2 linked regions of the Homo sapiens genome follow. The protein of the gene in region 1 purifies or fractionates together with the protein of each later gene. This does not show direct contact. Each region holds a gene or a part of one and is shown on either strand. Other genes may lie near its edges.

The links. The genes of interacting proteins can lie anywhere in the genome.
Region 2: the proteins of ZSCAN12 (region 1) and SERPINA12 purify together in Homo sapiens (affinity purification with mass spectrometry; 2 studies listed by BioGRID and IntAct, with this or other methods). This does not show direct contact.

What each region holds. Positions count from the first base shown.
Region 1 is NC_000006.12:28,383,773-28,390,373, forward strand, and holds the end of ZSCAN12 (zinc finger and SCAN domain-containing protein 12), read right to left. Parts: 3' UTR 2,465-6,601; coding exon of another isoform or gene 2,461-2,464; 3' UTR 966-2,460; downstream 1-965. UniProt on the Homo sapiens protein: May be involved in transcriptional regulation.
Region 2 is NC_000014.9:94,499,470-94,506,469, forward strand, and holds part of SERPINA12 (serpin A12 precursor), read right to left. Parts: intron 4,754-7,000; exon of another isoform or gene 4,564-4,753; intron 1-4,563. UniProt on the Homo sapiens protein: Adipokine that modulates insulin action by specifically inhibiting its target protease KLK7 in white adipose tissues.

The DNA.
Region 1 (6,601 bases):
GCAGGAAAGTAAAAGTATACCTGGGTGGGAGCTTTTATCTCAGGGCTAGGAGGACTGTGCAGCAGTCTGGGAAACATGCAGCTTGGTTAAAGGTAAATTTTGACCTGGGTCACTGGCATCTAGAGACAATGCATTTGAGAGAGCCCACAACAACAATCAAAATAGCAGTTGTAAAGCACTAATGTGCCAAGCACTATTCTAACACTTCGTAAACTCATTTAATCTACATTGGGTTGGTACTATTATCCTTGTCATTTTACATAGGAGGAAACTGAGGGACGAGAGGTTAAATCCCTTGCCCAAAGTCACTTAGCTAGTAAACTGAGATTCGAACCATGGCAATCCGTCTCTAGAATCCAGGTTCTTAAACCCTATCTCAGGAATAAGTAGGGAATTTGGCCAGAGGAAGCTGCAGAGTCCCTAAACTGCCTCAATCTTTATCAGGGATGAAATGAGGAGACATCTACTCCTAAATTCGTTACTGAAGTAGGCAGAACTAAGGCACTAGATCAAAACACTAAGATATGCCCACTAAGCTTGAAGAGGAGTAATGATGATGTAATCATAAATCAAAAGTAACAAATGGCTTCCACTATGGAGCCCTTCTTGGGACTTCCAGGAGCAGGCCAACTGGGCTTAGGAAAATGACTGGCAGGAGCAAACAGACATATACCCTAGAGATTAACTTGAACTATGATAGGTGAAAGCTCTGGGAGCCTTGACTGATGGGTTTCTGACACCTAAATGGTGTTTTTAACGTGTATGAAGAGAATCAACTGTCTCTTCAAGAGATGAAATCAAGGGAAAACTGCTGGCTCTAAATGATGGTCTTACAATGTAAGCTAGGGGGCTAATCAACTGAAAAGTTTAAAACACTTATCATAGTTGGCTTTGTCAACATCAAATTATATACATGAGGTCATATATATGTAAAATACAAATTACAACACAAAAATATTCATACATACTTTTTACACATTTATATATATATGTAGAAATACTATACAAGTAAAAAATAATGTGTGAGGACTCCTTACCAAACGCACACAGAACGTTTGAGAGGGAGAGGATCCAAAGAAATTCCAATAAAATGAGCTGCTGTAGTGACTGTGGTATATAACTTTTCGGTTTAAAGGATAAAAGTTGGGAAGAGATTCAATTAAAGGCTATCGAATGATTATGTCTAGGTTGAACAACAAGCATTTGCTCAAATTCTGGCCTTGTGGAGTTAGGAGGGTCACCATTTGAACTGTAAAATTGGTAAGTCTTAAGCAAAGAAAAATATCATATATCACATATATGTGTGTGTGTGCATTTTTAAATCCAAGAAGTATCTTCTAATATAAAATCACTTTTGAAAACTGGCATTAAAGATAGATCCATAATGGGTTATCAACACTTGGGGACAAATCTTTAAATCTTTCTGTATTAAATTAGACAGCCAAATATTCCTTATTCTGTGAGAATAATGCAGAGTGATTTATCATTCTAAGAAGGGTGATCTTTTCATATAAAGAGCCCATTTTTAAAGTGGAATGTCTCCTGTGACACCCTCACTGTGCAGGCAACAAGAAGTAGAGCTGTTTATGCTGGCCAAACCTCATCCAAGATTTGGTATGCAGAGGGGGTGATAATATTATTACCTGAGGTGTTTGGACTCCAGGACTTTCTGAATCATTTTTCAGAATAATGACTGGAGATAAAAAGTTTTTACAGATAATTACTCAAGACACTGAATTACCACTGCAACACATGGTTTGTTCAACTGAAATAAAGAGAGGAAGTGTATCACAGAGGTTAAAAGTGTGAACTCTGGAACTGGGCTGCTTGGGTTCAAATCTTGGCCTGACCACATACTAACTTCGGGACCTTGAGCAGCTTTAGATTATCTATTTCAGTTTCCCCAGCTGAAAGTGAAATGTTGTAAGTAAAGCATTTAGTAATGTCTGGCCCTTAGTAAGCAGCTAATAAGTGTGCGGTATTGTCATTAATAAATCCTTTTCTCAATTCCAAAAGATGGCCAATAAGAACAGCTTTGTTTTGACTATAACAACTCTACAAATAATCTGTATATTAACAAAAGTGGCTACTTCTGTACTGAATACAGGAATGCAGACTTGTCTAAGTTCTTCTATCTTAGAGGTCTCTACAACCAACCTCATTATACAGTTGAGATGTCTCAATTTGGAGCCCTGCTCAATCCCACTGTCTTTCCTCATTAGCTTCATCTCGTACCTCAAACTCTGGCAACCTCTTAATACAATTTATTTTTGGAAGGAGGGCCCCATTCTTTTTTCCTCTGCAGTCACTTCCCACTGCACTCTCTGGAATCAGTTTGATTGTCAGGTTACGTTTTCATTCATAGCCCGTGTTGAAACTCACCTCACTTTTCATTACTTTAGAAACTTGGCTCTTCCCCAACCTCTCCATGCTTTTTGCCTTAAACACTTAATGTCTTGTTTACCTTGAATCAATTAGAAAAGACAAGCCAGTCAATCTTATTCTTATTCTTAATATTATTTGCAAGCTTTATGATTCATTCAAGTTTTACAACAGATACTTCTATCTGGCCATTGTTACTACAATTGATGACCGTTATTTCTACCTTGGACCTGCTTCGCTTTTATATTCTTCGTTTCCATCCCACCCCGTTATTGTTATTTCAAAATCCACATACATAAAATGCTTCAGAGGTTTCTGGTTTCCTAGGATCTTGTCACTGTCACACCACATCTATATGTTATCCACAAAATGTACTCCTGACTTCATCACAAAGCATTCTCTCTTCACTGCATTCCCTAATGTAGCACTCCTATTCCATATCTAACATGTCACATCCTCCATTTGCCCCTCAGGGCCTTCAATTTGCCTATATTGCCAATTTAGCTCCAATTAGTAGCCTTATTCTACTATATTTCCTCTTTATCCTGGAAAGCTAGTTTAATCCTCTTTGATGCCTACCTGGAAATTCCATGTCACTCCACCTTTTTTTGGTACTACAACTGTATTTAAGCATGAGAAATAACCAGAACAAAACCCCCACGTGTATTTTTATTTTTATTTTAATTTTTGTTGAGATGGAGTCTTGCTCTGTCACCAGGCGGGAGAGCAGTGGTGCCATCTCAGCTCACTGCAACCTCCACCTCCCGGATTCAAGCGATTCTCCTGCCTCAGCCTCTCGAGTAGCTGGGATTACAGGCATGTGCCACCACGCCTGGTTAATTTTTGTATTTTTAGTGGAGATGGGGTTTCACCACATTGTCAAGATGGTCTCAACCTCCTGACCTCGTGATCCGCCCACCTCGGCCTCCCAAAGTGCTGGGATTATAAGTGTGAGCCACTGCACCCAGCCTCCACATTTATTTTTAAACAAGTATGAACTGTACCCTCCTATAATAGGCATATTCCATTGTTCTGAGTCTTTGTTTATGGTCCCTTTATAATATTAGGTATATAAGAAAGATTAAGTAGTGTGCAGAAAGGCAAATGGAGGAATGTGCGCAATGACAGAACATATTAAGCAGAAAATGAACTGGAAAGACCCCAAGTAAAGGCACTCAGAGGAGTAGAAGGCAAGTTTAAAACAACGATTGCATTCCAGCGAGCAGTCAGATTAAAAGAGAGGCTCTGAAGTTACTATGAACAGTAATTTCAGTTTGGATAACAAGTCTATAAAATCAGATTAGATAAGGAGTATGCATAGCATGTTTGGTAAGGAGAACATTCTCACACAGGTTCTCATCACTAAGTAAAGTCCCCTCCACTGAGAAGAGTTTCTAACAGTGAAACAGCAAAAGAACTACCATAACTAACTCCATTTTTGTTTAAGGACCCTTTACCTATTCCTCCATGTAGGCTAATTTTAGAGCAGAGATAATATGCAAAAACAGCAATCATGTAGTTTTAAAAACTAACTCTGGGATTAAAGAAGTATGTATAACAATTATGTTTTGTTGAAGATTTGCAGGAGCATTGTGACCCAACCAATGACAAAGAAGTTCCCAACCTCCTTGGACTCTTGCTGGCGCCCAGATGTCTGTGGTCATAGGTCACCTCTTCATCCCAACTCTGTCCTCTTCCCTTTGCCCTTAACATAAAAAGAGCCGAGCCCAACATTTGTACTGACTTAAGATGGTACTTTAGGACAGTAGTCTACCATCGTCTCAGTTTGCTGGCTCTCCGAATAAATCTGCTTTTCCTCGCACCAATTTTCTTCTCTCCCGAGTTTTGGCTTTGGAGCCGCAAGCAGCTGAACCTTGGTTTGGTTACAAGTTTGCATTCTCATTATGTGAGAAATGGGAGGCAGGGTAAACTTAGGTAGAGCACAGGCCTCACATACTTAGAGCTACAGAGCTCCCAGACTCACTCTGGGTTCCTTGTTTCCTGGAGGAAAAAAACTAGGTTTCCAATCCCAGTTGCCTCAGTGCCTCATGTGTGCAACTCCAATGCTGGGGTTATGAAAAAAGCCTAACTAAGCAGTCCTCAACTTATGAGTAAGTTGTTTTTCAACTGTTCATTTGCCTTTCTCTCTTGTGAACTCAAGAAGGTTTTTCCACACAGAAAGTCATGTAAGTTCCAATCCCAGAAGCCAATTTGACACCTAATATACCTGAATTATAATACTTATACCATTATGACTTCTATGGGAATATGTGTTCATATTTACAACTTAGCTAGAAACATAATATTCCTATAGGACCAGAGACGCTTCTAGTTCCAACCCAGGGATGAAATTCTATACAGGGTTTATGGCTAGAGAGGCAAGAGACAGGGGCACTAAGAAAATGGGGCTGGGGAGTATATTACAGGAGTGAAGAGAAGATGGGACAAAGACACAGGGCTGTGTAGAAAGGTAATTAGGAGTGGGACTTACTAAGGAAGAATGCAGATTACCCTTCTTTTATTTTTCCCCTTCCCCTTTTGTCACTGTCTCACCACTTCAAACCCACTAACCAGCTAGAAGTGTGAAGAGAAGAGAGGACTGGAGTTGTGTTGGGGTGTAGTAGGAAGTTAGTCCCAGAAACTGTGGAGTTTGCTGTGGCAGGGTAGAAAAGGAAGGAAATAACAGGCCATCTCAGTAGAGATTAAGAATGATTTCTGTAAATAAAAAGACAGATCAGGAGCCATGTGTACTTCCATGTGGCTTATCTGTTGTCCACTAAAATAATCAAGACAGGTTCTCATCCAAAGCAGAATTTTTACTCAGCAAGGCAAGGTTAGAGTCAACCAGTTTTGGTTGATTCATTTTTCAGAAGCCCAAGGGATAGTATCTCTAATTTGGGGTCCTTTTATGTGCTCAAGAAGTAAACAAACCAACAAAATGTAAATCAGTTCTCAAGAGCCATTATTAGGGAATTCAGAACATAGTGCTAACATGAGATCTGAGAAATAAAAGAAGGTAAAGCATAAAACAGAGAAGAGCACCAGGCCCTCCCCTAAATAAACAAACAACACAAGGCCTTGCACTCAGAAGACCCTTGGAATGTAGGTCTGTCTCTCTTTCTTTGAATACTTAAATCTGAAGGGATGGAAAGACCACCTAAAAATCCTAGTTTTTTGGCATGATGGGGGTCTAATTCCTTGTTCACTCCAAAGAGCTGATGGCACATGTTCCCTGTAAGGATCTCCTTGTGCTAAAAGTCTGCAGTGGCCTTTAGTTTATAGGACTGTGTTCAGGCTTCCCCACTTCGCAGACAGCCATGAAGTCAGCTGTCATTCAACTCAACGCTTCTCAAATTTTAAAGTATATTAAGTAACTGTGGAGCTATAAAAATGAAGATTCTCAACTCCCATCCTAGGCCTAATGAAGCAGAATGTGAGTGGGATTCAGGGATGTTAAACAAGCTCCAAACATGATTTTGATGTTCATCAAAGTTGGAGGATCACTAGAGTAATGGCCAGGACTAGAAGTCAAAAGACCTGCACTTAGGTTACTGGTCTTTTTCTTTGTGTGGGATTATAGCTATGTTGCCATCTCCATAGGCAAGAGTATTCTCATTTTTAAAATGGAGAATGCTTTTGATTTACCAAGGTATTTTAGGAATTGAGAAAAGTGCTCTGTAAATGTCCAAGTGCTATAAAGTATTAGATGAAATTATTCACACTCTGGCCCTCTTATGTGTCTGTCCCCAAGCTGTTTCCAACTTAATGCTATTGATTGCCCAATTTGCACGAACCTTTTACTTCAGGTTGGCTAGTCTTTTCCCTGATGCTTCCAAACCACATGCACTCTTATGATGGCTTACATTTGTTTTACCCGCTTTCTCCCTTTTGACTGCTAAGTCTGCCCGTCAAATCCTTATTTTAAATAAAATCTTTCTTGACCACTCCAGGCAAAAGTAACCTGTCCTTTAGAATTTACAGCACTTATAGTCTGTTACAAAGTACCACTTTCATTCGACACCATCTGGTGCATCAATTCTACTCTCCTGTAGTCTTATATGACTAAATATGTGGATCTTATCTATCCCAAACTAGGCTACAAACTCTCTGAGAAAAGAGTTTGGGGTTATCTTCTTGTTCTCCACAGCACGTAGTACAATGGGCAGCACACAGTGAATTCTTATTAAATATCTGAGGTTTCCTTATAACAATGGTGACT
Region 2 (7,000 bases), on another chromosome or scaffold:
CTCTGGTTGGACATACTACTGTCAGTGATGGTCACACCCATTTATATGTAAAACGAAGGCAGATTTCTTTGCTTGGTCATCTGTTATATCATTTAGTCTGCTTTCTTCCTGTAATTTATATCTTACATGTCTGTAATCTGTGGGTAATAGTCAGCCTGTCCACAGTAAAGGTTTTTCATGGTTGTCTTAGATTGGGTTCCCTAGAAGCAGAACCTGAGATGGGGATTTAGGTGCATGTTATGTATTGAGGCAGTTGTCTTCCCTGTAGGGAAGTGAGGGAAGTGGGATGGAAAAGGGAAGGAGCCAAGGTGACATCTAGCCTTGGCCTGGTCCACAGTGGGAGGGCTCTCCAGGCTGGCCTTTTGGATAGAATCGGTCAGTTGGTGGCTGTGATCTGTCCTCTGGATGCAGGTCATGGTGCATAACTGGGTCAGTTAGGTCTTATCAGCCAAGGACAATTTTCTGGAGAGGGGAGGGCAGTTGTGAGCTGTCAGCAGGCAACCCTCACAGCAGCACCAGCAAAAGGGAACTGGGTCAGCCACCAACGGGGTCTGCACAGCTAAACTCCCATGCCTGGCTCTTTCTGGTTGGCTGAATAAGCAGATGAATGAACACCAGGCAGGGCCTGTACCTAGGAGTGTCCCCAGTTCCCAGGTTCTTCATGTCCAAATCCTTCTACGCCAAGCACTGTGGATAGAGCCTTGATCACAACAAAGGTCTTCAAGGAGTTTGTAGTATAGTATTGGAAAATTCTAGTGAATACTGCTCATTGCTCCTTCAGCATCCATTCTCCCAGCTTCCCAATAGATCCTCTTCTTCTTTCTTCTCCTCTTCCCCTCCTCGCCTTCTTCTCCTCTTATCCTCTTCTCCTCATCTTCTCTTTCTTTTTCTTCTTTTCAATAATATACTCTTCTCTCAGGCAGCCCATGTGCCTCAGGGACACAAGCCCCTCCCAGCTCCAAGGGAGGGCCTGATTGGTGCAGGGGCATCTCAACTCTCCTGCTACTGGTTGGTTCAGGAGCCAGACCTAATCCAATCAGTGCAGGCGGGAATTTCTGCCCTGATCCTTGTTTAGGGAGGGGCATGTGGCTTAAGGGGTGCAATGAGGGAGGATTTCAAGACTGTTTGTTGGAATGTTGGGGTGCTGGCCTGTCTCTTTCCTGGGATGTCCTGGGCAGGAAGGCACGGCAGGCAGGGACTAACAGCAACTTTGCCCCGTGAGGGAAGTGACTCTAAGACAAAGCCATAGCACAAAGAGGATGCATCCAAGGGCTCTTAAGAGAAACCGGGGCTGGGTCCATGGAAAAAGCTGAACCCAGAGCCCACCTTGCCTCTGGACCCCCAGTGACGTTGAGTTACATGGTCACTTCCTTGAAGCCAAAAACATCCTCACAAATACGGGCAGATACATATTTTTTAAAACGCCAGGACTACTAAGTAGGCAGGAGTTCTGTGCTCTGCTCTCATGCCTTCGTAGCTGTGTGACATTCCAGAAAGCACTTCCCTCTCTGAACCTGGGTGCTCTCTAAGCACCTTCTACCCCCAAAAACCACTTCTTGGTAAAACTTAATAACAGCTGGTGATGAACAAGGGCTCTATGGGCTGCTGAAAACAGATTGTAGAAGAGAAATTAGTAAAATTCCCAAGAATGCTTCAGATAAACAAAAGAAAATAGGAAGGAGTCCATTTCAGGGTTTAGGGGGCTGCACTGTTTACAAAGGCTGCCTGGATTAAAAATAGAAGCTTCTGCTATTCAGAGTGGGCGCAAGTTCCCAGTGCCTAGGAGTGGAGAAGTTAAGACATGTCCCTTGAGCTGAGAAAACATTCTCAGCAGCGGTGAAACCAGCAGCCTGGCAGGAGCCTTGGAGGAGGCCGGGCAGGGCAGGGCTGGAGCAGGGAAGGAACCCACAGAAAGCACCATCCTGGGAACACTCTGTGGCACGCACAGCTTTACAGTGATGTTCAGTCACTGATCCCTAAACATTGTCAAGTTTCAGAAACAAGAACGGATTATGGAATTCCAGGTCTGGATAGCGGTCCTCCCCAACTTGTGTGTTTGTTAGGTGTTTTGATGCAAGTCTCTTCACCCTTCAGGCTTTCAGTATCTTCATCTATTAAATGAGGGGGAGGTGGTGATAATTTGGTTTCTTCCCCCATGAGATACTGCTGATCAGGTGGCACTGCCACCACCTCCCCGCCCCCCCACCCCCGCCCCAAGGGACACAGCCCACACCCTGGCCTGGTGGGGTCTCAGCACCCTCCCACCTCAGCATGCCTGTGTCACAGCAGTCTCCACCGGGCCTCCTGCCCTGGCTCCCTGAGTGCGAACATCTGGCCTTTCTCCCCCAAACAGCCAACACCAGCCCCATTCCGGGCCTTTCCATCTGTCATCACGGGCTTTAAACTGACCCAAATTTGTCAGTTGGGTTAGATGCCTGAGTAGGCTAATTTTTTAATTCCATCAATTAAAATAGCTGAGCAACTGGTTATTTCCCAATCAATTGATAGGTTGCTCTCCTGAGTTGAGCAATTGTTTGTTGGCTTTTAGTTTGGAATGTGTGTGTGTGTGTGTGTGTGTGTGTGTATCTGTGTGTGTTTGGCTGTGACTCAAAATAAATAAAGAGATAAAACTAAAACAAAACCAAGAAAAAAAAAAGAACAAGATAGAAACCGAACCCCATGGGGTACACATGGGACACATGAAGCTATAGTCAGTATTTCAATTCTCTGATCATCCTGCTCCCATGTTCCCTATTAATTTGGAAAAATAATTTCCTCCTCTTATGACTAGATAAAATAGTGCCTCACTGACCCGGAAGTCATTCATCCTAAAGACAGATCCAAACCAGATGGGAAGCGTCCGCACAGGTAGCATAGGCGGCTTAAGTCTACACGAGAAGGGGTTTCCCTGTGGGAGGGCACTGCTTCCACCTCCCACACCGTCCCGATCAGCCAACTGAAGCAACAGTGAGCTGTGACAGCAGACTCAACAATAATAATATTTCTAATTTTACAAAGCGCTTCCCCCGTTATCACCACAGTTTGAAGAAATGATACCTAAACAGGGATAACACACACAGGCTACAGAAGGTCTACTCAGTGCACAGTGGTTTGGAACCACAGTTTTCTTTAGAGAGAACTCCCCCTGCCCCCAGGCAGGTCACTCCTCTCCTGATAGTTGACCACCCTACCTCTCTTCCCTGGGATGAAACTGACTGGCTAGAAAGAGTTGATGTAATATCCTTCCTCAAGCCAATGAGACCAAAAAGTTTAGAATGCTTTGGACAAGTTCCCATGTCTTGAGAACCAACAGAGCGAGCTTCAGGCAACCAGTGTGTTGCCTCCTCATCGGGGAGATGCTTCCTACACTTGGCTGCATGCACCAGACACCCCTTCCTGCCCCAGAAACCCCTTCCTGCCCCAGGAACCCCAGGCCCTCTGAGATGCCACCTTTCCTCAGAACCTTTTCTGAGCGCCTCTTGGAATGTGCAGCACTTGGGTAAACCCGGTGCCCTTCTTTGGGCTGAGAAATCTGAGGAATCCTTGCTAAAGGTGTGCCTTGGCCTCCCAACAGAAGACCCTCACAAGAGCCCTGCACTTGAAGAGCCACTTCAGGCCTGCTCTGTGGCTCACCTGTTTTAAAGGACTGATATTGCTTTAAGAAGAAATCACTCTATATACATCAGAAATTAAATTATTATTTTTAAAAGCACATTTAGAACTAAGTGGTGGTAAGACATATCTTCTCTCCCCTGTTAGAAGTAAGAGAAGCCCCATAAACAAACTCTGATGACCACAGCAATATACTTTCTCCTCCTTTCTGGAAAACAAAGAGTGGAGAACATGTCCCCATTCCACTTGTTAATTTGCCCTGTAGATTTCTGCCTTCATTCCTTAAGAAATATGTTTGAGTCCTCACTCTGTGTCAGGCACTGGGGCACTAGAGCAATGCCCAGGAAATGGTCCATATTGATGCTGCAGACTGACTCTCAGCCCAACAAGCCCCACAGCCTTCTCCAAACCCTCAAGAACCTTCCAGCTGTTTGCCTGACCTGGTCCTCCTCCCCTTCCGTGACTGCATTCTAGGAGGAGGGGTATGTGGGTTGGAAAGGCTGAGAGATCATTGACTTCAGGACTATCTGTGCCATAAAGAGGGAAATGAGGCCCAGAGTGGACAAAGGAAGAGATTGTGGTTGCAGTGTGCATCAGTGGTGAAGGCAATTCTGCAGAAATGCATTGAACAGGCTGCTTCGCCTCACTTTCTCCATGAACCAGTGAGTTGATGGATCCAGCCTCTATCCTCAGAGAGAGATAAAGATTCACAAACAGCTCACACACAAGGATGACTGTGGCCAGCATCATGCAGCAGGGGTGGACCCAAATTGGAGGCACCACTTATGTCCCAAGACTTCTCCCATCCCCACATTCATGAAGCTTCTCTCTCTAGAAAAGCACTGGGCAGTAGACATCCATAACACTCTGCCAAAGATGTTCAACAAATTCTTCAAGAGGGGTTTACCTGGATTTTGGAGATCCTCTAGAATTTTCCTTTCATACACCCACCTGTGGACAGTGCTACATCCTCCCTCGATCTGAAGCAAGCTTCGTGTGGAATAGACAAGAAGCACCGGATCTTTTGGAAGGGAAGGTCTCATACTCACAGTACATTCAGAAGTCCACTGAGCCAGCCAAATGCATCTGCCTTTCTTGCTTTATTATTTATACTTCCATGGCCTCTTGGAAGAGTAAGGCCAATACAATGAGCTGGCGTGTATGGGCAGGTGATGGAGGCTTTGGAAGCAATGGCCACACCACCTCCCTGGGAGCTCTCCCTGTGGAGGCAGCGGCATGATATCGTACCGGCCACACCCACTGGGCTGTGGCTTCCCTAATGAAGTCCACTAGACACCTTTTGCAACGACTCTATTTCCCAGTTGCTCTCTGGGTATGGAAGCCAGAATAGTCTACAAGTAGATGAGCCTAGAGTCCTAATACTGAATATTCAACCCAAGTATCATCATTGCTGCCCATGGGAACAGGTTGATAACTGGGCTTCTTGGGGTCATTCCCATGTATCCCTCACCATTTTCTTTTGCTATTTTTTCATGTGTTCCAAATTAGCTTAGCTCACATGGAGTCCTTTGGGGAAAAAGTTCGAGGACAGACAAATAGACAACTAAATGCGTAGATTCCGTTAGGAAGAACAGGAATTAAAAATTCACCTCAAAGTTCATGATCATGGAAATTACAAATTGTTTTCCTATTGCACATTTGTTGTGCTGGAGTGGTGAGACTATGGTTGGGTTCTCTTGTGCTGGGGTGATGAGACTATGGCTGAACTCTGTTGTCTCTGCCTCCCCCTTACTTTTCTATATTTTCCAAATTGTCTTTAAAAAACAGATATTACTTTAGGATTAATTTTTCAAAGGCTTAAAATAAAATAAAATAAAATTCTTATCTTCAGTTTTACCACTTGGAGAGAGAAGCATTGAAGATGTCTGGGAACATTCCAAACCCACTGATGCTGGGATGGAAGAGCAATAAGCTCAACATGCCTATCTTCAATTCTGCTTAATCTAATGAGCTCCAGTGAGCAGAAAAAACATTCACATATTTCTTCCCCATTGAGTGGTGTTTCACAGTAGGTCGTATCTGATCGAAACACCTCGGAGGCCTCGGAAGAGCCATGGGTGTTGTTTTCCCTTCCTTTGGGTTGCTGCTTTTAGCAAAGACATGACTCTCATTCCCAGAGCTATTCAGAGCAGGTGACCCAGACAAACCTTCTTGGAAAGAGGAGACACTAGTTCATTCCCAGGCCTGGTTCAGCCACAGACTCTATGCACTCAGGGCCTAGATGAACAAGGACATGGGGATATGGGTTCCAGAGCTGCCCAGATCAGAAACCACCCCTGAAGATGCCCCTGAGCCACCACCTTCCCTCGCCCAGGCAGCAAGGCCTGCCTGCTGGGATGCATGGGTCAAAGACACCATGTGAACGGCGAGATGAGAGACTTCACACTGGCCGGCTCTGGTCACCAAGGGGTTGCAGAGGAGACAGAAGGACAGGCTGAGACCAAGGAGTACAGGTGGTCCTATTGTGACTGTAGAGGCTATAGTGGTGGAAGATCAGAGCCAGTGAGGTGGACACTGACCCAGAATCCAGGTCTGTACATCTGGTTTGGGAGGGAAAACCTGCCCTCTAATGACAGGGTGAGGCCTGTGTGAGTCTGAGGGCCATGCCTCCCTGCCTGCCCCAGACACTCTCTGCTCCAGGGTAAATTTCCACGGGAGACATGCAGGAAGAGGCCAGGGTAGGGATGCCCACTGAGCGACACGGGCAGCACTGGGGATGCCTGAGTTCAGACAGTGCCAGAGGCCAGTAGGCCATGGGCAGAGGGTAGCCACAGGTGGGCTGCCGGCCAGCCAGGCGCTACACCTGGGTTGGGAGTTGCCTGTCCTGCCTGGGGAAAAGAGCCCCGGAGGAGGTGCACGTCTGTGGAGAGCAGTGAAGGATATAGGCATGGGAGGGAGCAGCCCCCTTCACGTGCCCATTAAGGGACCTCAGCCTAGACTTGAGGCTGCCCCGACTGCCTGTAGTTAAGATTCAGGTCCCATGGATTTGTGCCTGGTGTTCATCAGGGGCTAGAAGGATGAAGGAGATTGTCCAGCCTGGGAAGATTATTGTTATAAGTTAATGGGCCTAAGGCACTGGTCGGAGGCTGAGGGGTGGCCTGAATATTTTTTACATTATTGCCATGTGTAGGGGTGAGAGGGGAGCTAGGAATTTCTGGTCCTCATCCTCACTCTTTGGATCTCCCAGATGGAAGAAACATGTTAGTGACCATGCCACACCCTAACTCCAAGAGCTCTGGTCTGATGGGAACACAGAACACAGAGATACAAGTCACACTAGGTAAGGGCCAAGGTAGAGGTAACTCTGGGAGGTGAGAACACACAAGAGGCACCTGATCCTAGCTGGGGTGCTCTGGACTGTGTCATA